2 separate regions of the Homo sapiens genome follow, and region 1 is linked to region 2. The links come from fine-mapping of genetic effects on gene expression. A gene starts in region 2. The other region holds a variant in brackets. All regions are shown on one strand. Distances are from middle to middle.

The links. PIP is the estimated chance that this variant, and not a neighbour inherited with it, causes the effect.
Region 1: its variant is fine-mapped to the expression of RAP2C-AS1 in lung (GTEx, PIP 0.95).

Annotation. Positions count from the first base shown.
Region 1 is chrX:132,188,676-132,194,063 of GRCh38, reverse strand. No RefSeq gene overlaps it. Among named protein-coding and RNA genes, the nearest start is that of RAP2C-AS1, 27 kb to the left of the region's middle. The variant A/G (reference allele first, on the strand shown) is at 2,990.
Region 2 is chrX:132,215,840-132,221,227 of GRCh38, reverse strand. RAP2C-AS1 (RAP2C antisense RNA 1) reads right to left here and starts at 2,721. Exons shown (of 3, transcript NR_110410.1): 1 at 2,391-2,721. It overlaps RAP2C (RAP2C, member of RAS oncogene family), which reads left to right and starts at 1,781. Exons shown (of 6, transcript NM_001271186.2): 1 at 1,781-1,858; 2 at 2,887-2,996; 3 at 3,216-3,312; 4 at 3,422-4,232. The coding sequence starts at 3,960. RefSeq lists enhancers at 1,410-1,459, 1,790-1,859 and silencers at 3,292-3,341, 3,352-3,791.

The DNA.
Region 1 (5,388 bases), 27 kb after region 2:
GCTCCCACCTCAGCCAGCCCAGAGAGGGGCTCCCATAGTGCAGCGGCGGGCTGAAGGGCTCCTCAAGCACGGCCAGAGTGGGCACTGAGGCCGAGGAGGCACCGAGAGCCAGCGAGGGCTGCCAGCACGCTGTCACCTCTCAATATCAATCAATGTACTTCTGAAAACCAATTTACTGTTCATCTTGATTTTCGAATTATTTGAAAAACTAAGAGTAATGGTAAGCACAAGACTTAGCCTTAGCATTCATGAAAATATAGTACAAAGCTATAGTAATTAAAACAGGTTGACACAACTGTAAGAATGAACAGACAGATCAGTGAAACACAAGGATCACCCCCCCAAAGATTTCTTGTTCATATAATGTAACACATTATAAGAAGGTATTAACATATGTGGGGAAGTATGAAATTATACTACAAATAGTGCTTGGATAATTAGATAACTATTGTTGACTAAAGAAAAAAATGAAGCTTTTAAATGAAGTTAGTCTTATTTAGCCTTATGGAGGACTATAGACCAAGGCCTAAATACTGTGCTCCTGCACAGTATTTCAGCCTATTGCTTATATATAGGTGGTAGGGGTTTGGTACATGCAAAATCACATTAAACTTGCTCAGAAGTTACATTCCAATCATATAACTGTTTGGGTATAAGAGTACATCTGGGGCCGGGCACAGTGGCTCACGCCTGTAATCCCAGCACTTTGGGAGGCTGAGGCAGGCAGATCATTTGAAGTCAGGAGTTCGAGACCAGCCTGGCCAACATGGTGAAACCCCATCTCTACTAAAAATACAAATAATTAGCCAGGTGTGGTGGTGTGCACATGTAGTCCCAGCTACTTGGGAGGCTGAGGCAGAAGAATGGTTTGAACCCAGGAGGCAGAGGTTGCAGTGAGCCGAGATCGCACCACTGCACTCCAGCCTGGGTGACAGAGCTAGACTCCATCTCAAAAAAAAAAAAATAAAGTACATATGGTTATCAATACAAAGGCATAATCACTAACCCAGTCAGATGTTATCTTCTGTGCTGAAAAGGCAAGGACTAGGATCATTCATCTTTTAAGGAATATACATCTCAGGCAAGAGAAGTGGGGGACCATGTGCTCTATCCTGTTTTGTCTTCAAAGCATCTTTCCAGAGAGGTGCACATTATCACAGAGTCAGGGTCTTTGTGAAATCATGCAAGCAAGCAAAAACAAGCAAACATGGCTTCTTTAGAGCTTCATCTCACAGCATGTATTAATACAGAATCCAGAAGGATCTAAAAAAGGGAATGTGAAAAACTAAACAAAAACAATAGAAAAAACCCAAAAAGACTGTTCGTCAGATCTGCTAATAATGAAAACCTTTTTAAGTTTAAAAGCAATGGATGGCATAACAAAAGATTTTTAGATTGTACTAGATTTTTAAAACTTGGAAGAATATTGTAACAAATATGATAAATGAGGGATTGATAGCTTTAATCTATCTTTTAAAACTCATACAAATTGAAAAGAAAAACTTAAAAATTCAAGAGAAAATTAGACAAAGAAAATATTTCATAGAAAAGATATATATGGCTACATACAAAAATTGTTCAAGCTTACTGGTAACAAAAATATGCAAATAATACAACAGTGAAATATTATTTCATTGTTGTGTACTTAACTTCTCTTATTTTGAAGAAACTCCACAAGATACTATTGTTTTATGTAGTTAGTTTCCTTATCCCTGCATATTTGTCATTTTCTTTGCTTATCAACCTTTCTTGGTATTCAAATGTTCTATCAAAAATCATATTCCTTCTGCCTGTAGTATACATCCTTTATCATTTCTTATATTGTATGTCTGCTGGTGGCAAAGTCCCTGACTGTTTGAAAATTGTATTTTATCCTCAAGATTCAAAGATATTTTCATAGATGTGGTACATATATGGAATACTATGCAGCCATAAAAAAGGAAGTCAAGTCCTTTGCAACAACATGAATGCAGCTGGAGGCCATTATCATAAGTGAATTGATACAGGAACAGAAAGCCAAATACCACATGTTCTCACTTGTAATGTAAATGTGGGGCAATAAACCCACACAAGAGCTAAATTGTGGTTATAATTTACCAGGAATGGTTATTCGCCTTCTCCCATCAACTAGCTGTGATAGGCAACAAAGAAACTTTCCTTACATTTTCCTGAGGATATGTATTTATTTCTGGTTCACCTTTACACTGAGAACATAACCCCTTAGGATACTGGATTTATGGTGGTAGGGACTCTTAATTAGTTTCCCCATCTTGGTAGAGCCCTGAGCTTTATGTTCTGTCCCCATATCTGGATAAATCACATAGACACAAAAGAGCAAAGTTCAAATTAGGCTGTTTTGGCAAATGTCCTTAGGGAAAAATTTCAGGGCTTGGCTTATTTCTTTGGGTTGCTGCCTTCATTTAGATCCATGCCTGGTAATTTCCATCTCATTAGCTTTTTGACACTTTTAACAAGATTCTCTTTCTCCACACATATCATATATACACTATATATGTATATATATATACACTGTACATAGCATAATATGCATATGCTTTATCCAGCAGTTTTAGCTGTTTTCTGCCTGCAGAAATCTGTCCAAATACCTAGACAGCCATACTATCTGAAACTAAAACATACATTTTATTATGAATAAATTAATAAAGATATTTATAAAAAGATAATCCTCATTATTTAACAGACATGGGGTAAAAAGAGCACTTATACACTACTGCTAAGACTGTACATTGAGTGTAAATCAGCTTAACCTTAAATAGAGAACACTTTAGTGGTATGTATCTGGAATCTTTTAAATGTTCATCAACTCGACTGAATAATTCCACTTCCAATAATATATAATAGTAACTAAGCAAAGATGCTCATAAACATGTATATTTGAGGATGTTTATTGAAATGTTATTTATAATAGGAAAAGAAAATCTTTATGGCCTATTGATAAAATGAAATACTATGCAGCCATTTATTAAAT[A/G]TATTTTATAGAATATACAATATGACATGGGGAAATGTTCTCAATAAAAGGTTAAGTGAAAATCAGAACACAAAATTGTATACAGCAGCAGAATCCTAATGTGTGTTTGTGTGTGTGTATGCATGGAAAAACATCACAATATTAATGGACACACACACACACACACACACACACACATCTCCCAGTATCTGTAGGGGATTGCTTTCAGTACCCCCGTGGATACCAAAATCTGTGATGGTCAAATCCCTGATATAAAATGGTATAGTATTTGCATATAACCTATACGTATCCTCCCATATAGTTTAAGTTGCCTCTAGATTACTTATCATACCTAACACAATGCAAACGCTATGTAAATAGTTGTTATACTATAGTTTTTATTTGTATTATTTTCTTGTTTTTTTATGGGAACAGTTTTGATTAGTGGTTGGTTGATTCTGCAGATGCAGGACCCATGGATATGGAACCCATGGATATGGAGGGCTGATTGTATATATATATGCATATATATACGTATATACATATATACGTATATATACATACATGTATGTGTATATATATATGGTTAAGTGAAAATGAGAACACAAAATTATATATAGCAGCATAATCCGTGGATATGGATTGCATATGTGTATATACAATCAGCCCTCTATAACCATGTATTCCATATTCATGGGTTCTGCATCTGTGGAATCAACCAACTGCTGATCAAAACTATTCATATATATATTCAGATATATATTCATATATATATCAATAAAATAATGAAAATAAAAAATATAGTATAACAACTATTTACATAGCATTTGTGTGTGTGTGTGTGTGTGTGTGTGTGTGTGTGTGTGTGTGTAGATGGTGGGGCTATGGCTAATTTTTATTTCCTTTGTAAATTTTACATACTCTTCAGGCTAGCATATATTGCTTTTAAAATCAGAAAACAGTCTGTTAATAAAAAGCAGCACATTAGGAAAAACTGTGAATATTTAACAGCAGTTCTTTAAATGGTTGATATTCTTAATATACAAATAACTCACATAAATCTAAACAAAGCCTTAAGATTCTAGATATAAATATCCTAATATTGCTATCAATAGTACTTTGAGTACTGTGGATCTAAATTCAATCGCTCAACCAATATTGAAGAAAACTCTTTCTGCATAGCTGAACAAATGGATTTTATTTTACGCAAGGGAAAACTACCCCTCTTCTTGGAGAGGCTGGAAAGCTATAGCTACACATTTTGACTCTATCCTTTATGTGAAATGCAAAGAGAAGCCCCTGGGCTGCCTGTGCATACACATATTTGCACACATGCATGCGCTCTCTCGCGCTCTCTCTCTCTCACACACACACACACACGCACACACACACACACACATTTTCTAGTTCTTGCCTTCTCCTTTATCCCCCGAAGGGTTTGTACCACAATAAATTTTTTCTGGGTGTTTTTAGGGGGGTTCTCACACATGGTCATGAATGAGTAGTGTCAGAATAAGTACATGGATTTTGTGTTTTCTTTCTCCCATTATTGTGCTCCAGCTTATATCCTCTAAGTGCTCTCATGTGATCTAAGCATTGCTATATTTTCTAGGCAGAGCTGACACTTGCGCTGTGTAATGCTGCATTTGGAAGGCATGGTACCACATCAACTGGATATCAGCTGCCTCTGCTGGCTTCTGTAATTCACAGTAGAAACTGCTGTTACTTCTATGGAGTAATAATAGTTTCCCTTAGTAGTAGCTTTTCTAAAATACCACCAAAATTAGTGCTGGGCATCACTATCTTGTGCCCAGAGCAACTGTTGACACCTTGGAGACTTGCAGCCATGGTCACCATGGACTGTTGTACAGATTGCACACTGCACAAGAGATGTCTCTCTGAGAGGACAAGGAGTTGTCAAATTCATCCCGTGTTCCCCTGTCATGCAGTATGCCTGTGGAGTTGAATCTGTCCTAGAGGAGAAGATGCATACCTATTTCTAATTCACCTGCTCAGAGAGTGCATTGTTCCCTCACCAAGATTTGGGGCTGCCTAGAGCAGGTGCCATTTTCTAATTTGTACAGATACAGTATAGACTAGCTGCAACTCTGCCTATAGATGTCCAAGTATATGATATTTGGGAGGATGTGGCAGAAAATGCCTCTCTTTTGGGGGCTACACTCAAATGTAAGCTCTGTCACTTTGTTTGCTGCTTCATCCCCAGCGTTTTTAGCACAGTATCTGGTACAGAGCAGGTGTTAGATAAATATATTTGTTGACTGAAAAAAATGAATGAATTAGTACAGTCCCAAAGCAGTCATGCATGTGCATAATGACAAAATATTTTTGTAAAACAGCTGTTTTTGTTTTTATTGACTACAACTTCTTACATACCCATAAGGCTCAGACATTGAATCTGT
Region 2 (5,388 bases):
GTGAGCTATGATCATGCTACTGCCCTCCAGCTTGGGTAACAGAGGGAGACACTGTCTTAAAAAAATTAATTAATTAAAGTTTAAAAAGCAAGGTAAAAAATAGTGTGTACAGTTGATTACTTTTGTAGTACAGTAATTTTTAAAAATATATATAGAAGGTAGATTGATACACTGACATATGAATAATGTTCCCCCCTGAAAAACATAAGAAGCTTTTAACAATAAATATCTTTGTGAAGAGTAACTGAATTATTATTTTCGTGCCACTTGCAGATATTTGAGCTTTTAAAATTTTGTTACCCCCATGTTTGCTATTTTTTAAAAATTAACAATTCATTAAATCTTTTAAATAAAAACCAAATAGCATTTATTGAGGCTTTATAATGTGCAAGGGACTGTGCTAAGCACTTTACCTGTAATACCTCATTACATTTTCACGTTAACTTCTTATCTCCTTTTTACAAGTGAGGAGTTAGAGGCTCAGACAAGTGAAATCACTTGCTTGGGGACACAGAGCTAGAATGTGGCGGAGCTGCAATTTTAATGCACCTCTGTCTCATTTCAGAGCCTTAGCTCTCAACTGCCAGGCCGCACTCTTCTGCTTGCTCTTTATACCCTCATTGCTTAATGAGAGTACACTAGCAAACAACAGGAGTCTAATGAGATAATGTATGTGAAAATACTTTTCTAAGTATAGAGATGTTTGGGGAGGGCAAGCAAGGGTAGGGAATTTGTTTAAATTGGGCGGACCTGTCCACTGACCCCTAGACAGTCAGGATTTTTTTTTTTTTTTTTTACAAAACCAAGATCAACAACTTTCTTTTGTTCCTCCTTTAAAAATATTATAAAGTTATATTTACTTCCTTTTTCCCAATTATTGTTTATAAATTAAAATATGGAGAAATAAAAGCCATTTCATAATAGTCCTCACCCATAATTACTTTGTTTCAGATTTGAATGGCTATGTAACTATTACACACCTGCGTTTTACATAAACAGTAGCAACTAGACATTTGTTCAGTATCTTGCTTTTTCAGCCCTACAATATATCTTGGCCATCTTTTTATATAAACACTTACAAATCTGCTTTTCTCTTTTAAAGTAGCTGCATAATATCCTATTCTGTGAATACAGATAGGTAGGTAGGTAGGTTGGTAGATAGATAGATAGATGATAGATAATAGATATAGAGAGCTATGAAACTTTTAAAAATCACCTACTGAAGGACATTTAAGCTTCTTCCAATTGTTTGATTTCCTAATCAATGCTGTAATGAATACCCTTCCTAAGAAAGTTTAGAAGGATCTTTAGACTGAGTGTAATATTTGTCCACTGTAGTTGACGAGAGTGACCCCACAGGACGCTGTACTGAGGGGAGGAGTATGTTTCACTGCGTGGAGAAACAAAGAACTCTCTCCTAAGCATGACCAACACATTCAGAGATATTAGAATTGCCAACAGGTGGGATGACCTGAAAAAGAACTCCTTGCTTTGACAGTTTAGTAATAGAGCAAAGACTTGCCACGATTGCTCAACACTGGCTGGATCAGAAGAGGAATTTCCAGACTCAGTTACAAGCACGGCTGGTGGAGGGCTGTGAATCCCACCAGACAGTCTGGAGACAGCTAGGCAGGGAGATGAGCAGCAGAGCTCCAAATCAGGCAACAGCACGTGTGAAAGGAGCAGTGACCTGTGGGGAAACTCATAACTCACAGACCAAACCCCTTCCAGCAGAGGGCAGTGCCTCTGATACGACACAGGGCCCAGGCCAGCTGGAGCCAGAGCTGGGGACTTCGCTGGAGAGATGGCACCGGCCTGAGGTCAAGGAGAAATTGAACTAAACTCTCCTTTGAAGACTGTAAGTGACATTGGGGAATACTCAGGGAGGGACAGTGGGACCTCACACTACTATGATTCGCCTGTGTTCTAATGTCCAACAATTTAGGCTGAGTAATAAATCTCTTTATAGAGTTTGGCCATTTAGGGCTTGTAAGTAAGGGAATTTGGAGTCATTTTTGCTAGGCTGGCCACTGAGTCTCGCAGGTTTCTGGGTACATGCTTGAATTGAAAAGAAAGTGACACACCTAAAATACAGCCTAGACTCCTGGCCCTGGGGCTCTGTGGATCCGACACAAAGTTTACAAATAGAAAGCTAGCAAAGGGAAAGATAGTCGGAAGTAACAATTTTATCTAAAAATAGAAACTTAGAATCTAACACCAGAGTTACTACTTGCTTTTGAATTTCAAAGACTACATAGGATGGCCTTTAAAACAAAACTTCAGCATGTAAGAGCCAGCCAAGCAAATTGTTATACATAATCAACGATTAAAATAAATTAGTCTTTAGGCCTAAACCGTTTCCAATCAAATCTTTCTTGAATATTGGTTACCTTTTCTGCCGTGTAGTGGTTGGAATCAAATGAGAACATAGCTGAGCAGAGTACCATAAAGTCTACTTCTAATGCTGCTGTTTTCGAGCCTTGTGATTTTTTTTTAAGTGACTTTAGTATTCGCTGGTAAAGTCAAGGCGGATCTACCAGACGGTAAAAGTTCTGTGTGTTTGTCAGGCACGGCTAAGTAAAACGCACTGCATCTGAAAGTCTAAGGGTAGTTTGCATGCATCTCTCAGCAAAATAGCAAGTGGAAGAAATACCAGCAAGGAGAATAAACTTTCTGGGCTGTTTGATTTCCCCTGCAACTTCTAGTCCAGGGATGTTTGGCGTTCTCCCGGTCGCTAGATTATTAGCCCGCAGGTTCCGCACCGGCCAGGGAGCCGCTCAAGTCCTAGGGCCGGGCGGCTGGAGGTTGCAGGTCGGAGGGGCTTCTACGGGTTTGGGGGTGGGACGGTCCGCGGCAGCCGCGGGCGGGTAAGGACTGACGTCGCAGGTTTCCAGAGGCCCGTTCCCGAAGCCGGAGTCCCGACCCGAAACCGTCCCCGGCCGGCTCGCTCGCTCAGCAGGGCGCGGCTCCAGCGCCACCCGGCTCGCCCCGAAGAGGTGGGACTTTCCCCACCGGAAGTGATCCCGTCCAGTCTCGGGGAACTGGGGCACCTCAGCCAGTGTGTCAGGGAAACCCTTCCGGGTGTGTGCTTGGTGGGGGTGGGGGTGGGGGTGGGGGTGGGGGTGGGGGGTGGGTGAGAAAAAAAAGAGGTGGGTTCGCCTGGAGTCCCTGCGGCCGCCGCGGAAGGCCCCCGCTTCTTTCCCCGCGGCGAGCAGCAGCGCTGGGGCAGCGGAGAGACAGAGGAGCCAGCGGGTGGCCATGGCCTTGGCGTGACAGAGCCTCCCCGGCGGCCGGGCGGGTGCGGACGGCGGGGTAAGCGGCAGTAGCTTGATCCGGGTGGGAGTTGGGGGAGGCGGCGGCCGGCGCCGCAGGTTCGGGGCGGGGGTCAGCCGGGTAATGTGCGTCCTTCTCCCCTTCACAGGCCGGACGACCCCCGCGGGAGCCGGGGCCCAGAAACCCGCCCGGGCAGCGGTAACTGGAACGGAGCCCTCAGGCCTGAGCCGGCTGGGCTGCGCGAGCAGGAAGCGGGGTCCCTGGGCCCCTTTGTGTGAAGGGCGGGGGAGGAGTGCCGGGCAGCCCCGGGCTGCGGGCTCCTCCGACGTCCGCCTCGCCGCAGGGTCCCCTCGCCGCAGCCCCCACCCTTTCCCTCCCGGGGGCACGCGCCTCCTCGCCACCCTCGCCGGGCTTTTCCCAGGCTCGCCCTCCTCCCCACGCCCCCTGCTCGGGCTGCAGTTCCTATAGGAAGGGCATTACCATCCCTTCCCCACCCTCCCCGACTCTACGCTCTTTCCCCTCCCCCTCCTGTAACTTCCTCTTCTTCCCCGGTTGGGCCCTCTGCTCCTCTGCACTCTCCTCCCCAGTTCGCAGATTTCCGCCCACCTTCCGCCTCGTCTAGCCGCGCCACAGCTAGCGGGGTGATCTTTCCCCCCCTCTGGTAGGAGTTGGTGAAGGTGAGACTCATGAGGGAATACAAGGTAGTGGTGTTAGGGAGTGGAGGGGTTGGCAAATCTGCCCTTACTGTGCAGTTTGTCACTGGGACTTTCATTGAGAAATATGACCCCACCATTGAAGATTTCTACCGCAAAGAGATCGAAGTGGACTCTTCCCCCTCCGTGCTGGAAATTCTGGACACCGCAGGAACTGAGCAGTTTGCCTCCATGAGAGATCTCTACATCAAAAACGGCCAAGGTTTCATCCTGGTTTATAGCCTGGTTAATCAACAGTCTTTTCAGGTAACCAAACCAAGTCTTGTAATTTGTTAGAAGGGGGTGTGGTAATCCGACATCGACTTCTGGGTTGCTTGAACCGTGCATTAATGACTGTGCTTTGCTTTTGAAAGTTAGACATGACGCATTTTTGAGGTTACTCCTGCCATGGAAGACTATCGGGTTGTTTCTATAGAGCGTAGTAAAAAGTAACAAGCGTCAACAAATATTTTAAAGCTATTTTTAAGTGAAAGAAAAGTGAAAAAGAAATGTCAGTCTGTGTATATTTCGCCTGGAATATAACCTTCTGAAGTTGCTTGCTCAATTCAACAAGTATTGATTAACTTACACGACAAAACATCTAACAAATAATCTCGGGTAAATAGAGCACTTTGAAAAAATTATTTGGAGCCGATTATCTGTTGCACAGATAAGTCCTCTGTGTCTGTCCCACCCACACCTTCCCCTCCCACCCCCCAACACCCCCTCCCGCCGCCCTCCCCTTCTCTCTCAAGTTTCTCAACTAGATTCATAAATCTTAGTGTTGCAAGACGAAGAACTCAAGACCTGCCTTCTAGGCATTTTACTTAATTACTTGGGGCGTGTAGTAGGAAGAAAAGTTACTAATAGAAAAGACTAGTACCTAGAATTAATAACCAACAAAAATCAGGAATGACTCTTTTTCTGCAGTTGATCCAAATTGTTTCTGGTAACATTGCCTGTATTTACAGAAAATACGTGGGTCTGGGAACACTGAACAAGTGCAGATTTCTTACTCCGGCTGGGTGGCCAAACTGGATGTGGTCCAATCTCTTAGAAAATCTGTCCTGTCCTTCACTGGGAAACAGACTGAAGGTTTAACGTTATTTTAGGATATGCAATGTATGTTTCTATTTATCCCTTGAAAATGAATAACCTCATATTGACCCATTATATTGACCTCCATTGATTTAGGAAATGGATATATTTTTTCTGCATTTAAAGGTATGCACTTAATGTAGCTTACTTAAGAGACCTTAAGTGCTTTAGCCAATACAATGTGCTAATTCCACTTTCTTTAGTATTTTAAATTAAAGTACTATAGTGAACTTTCCCAGTAACCTGATAGAACAACTTCAGGGATTTTTTTTTTTTAAGATGATAAATTCTGGGGAAATAAATCAAAGCTATTGAGACCAAACTA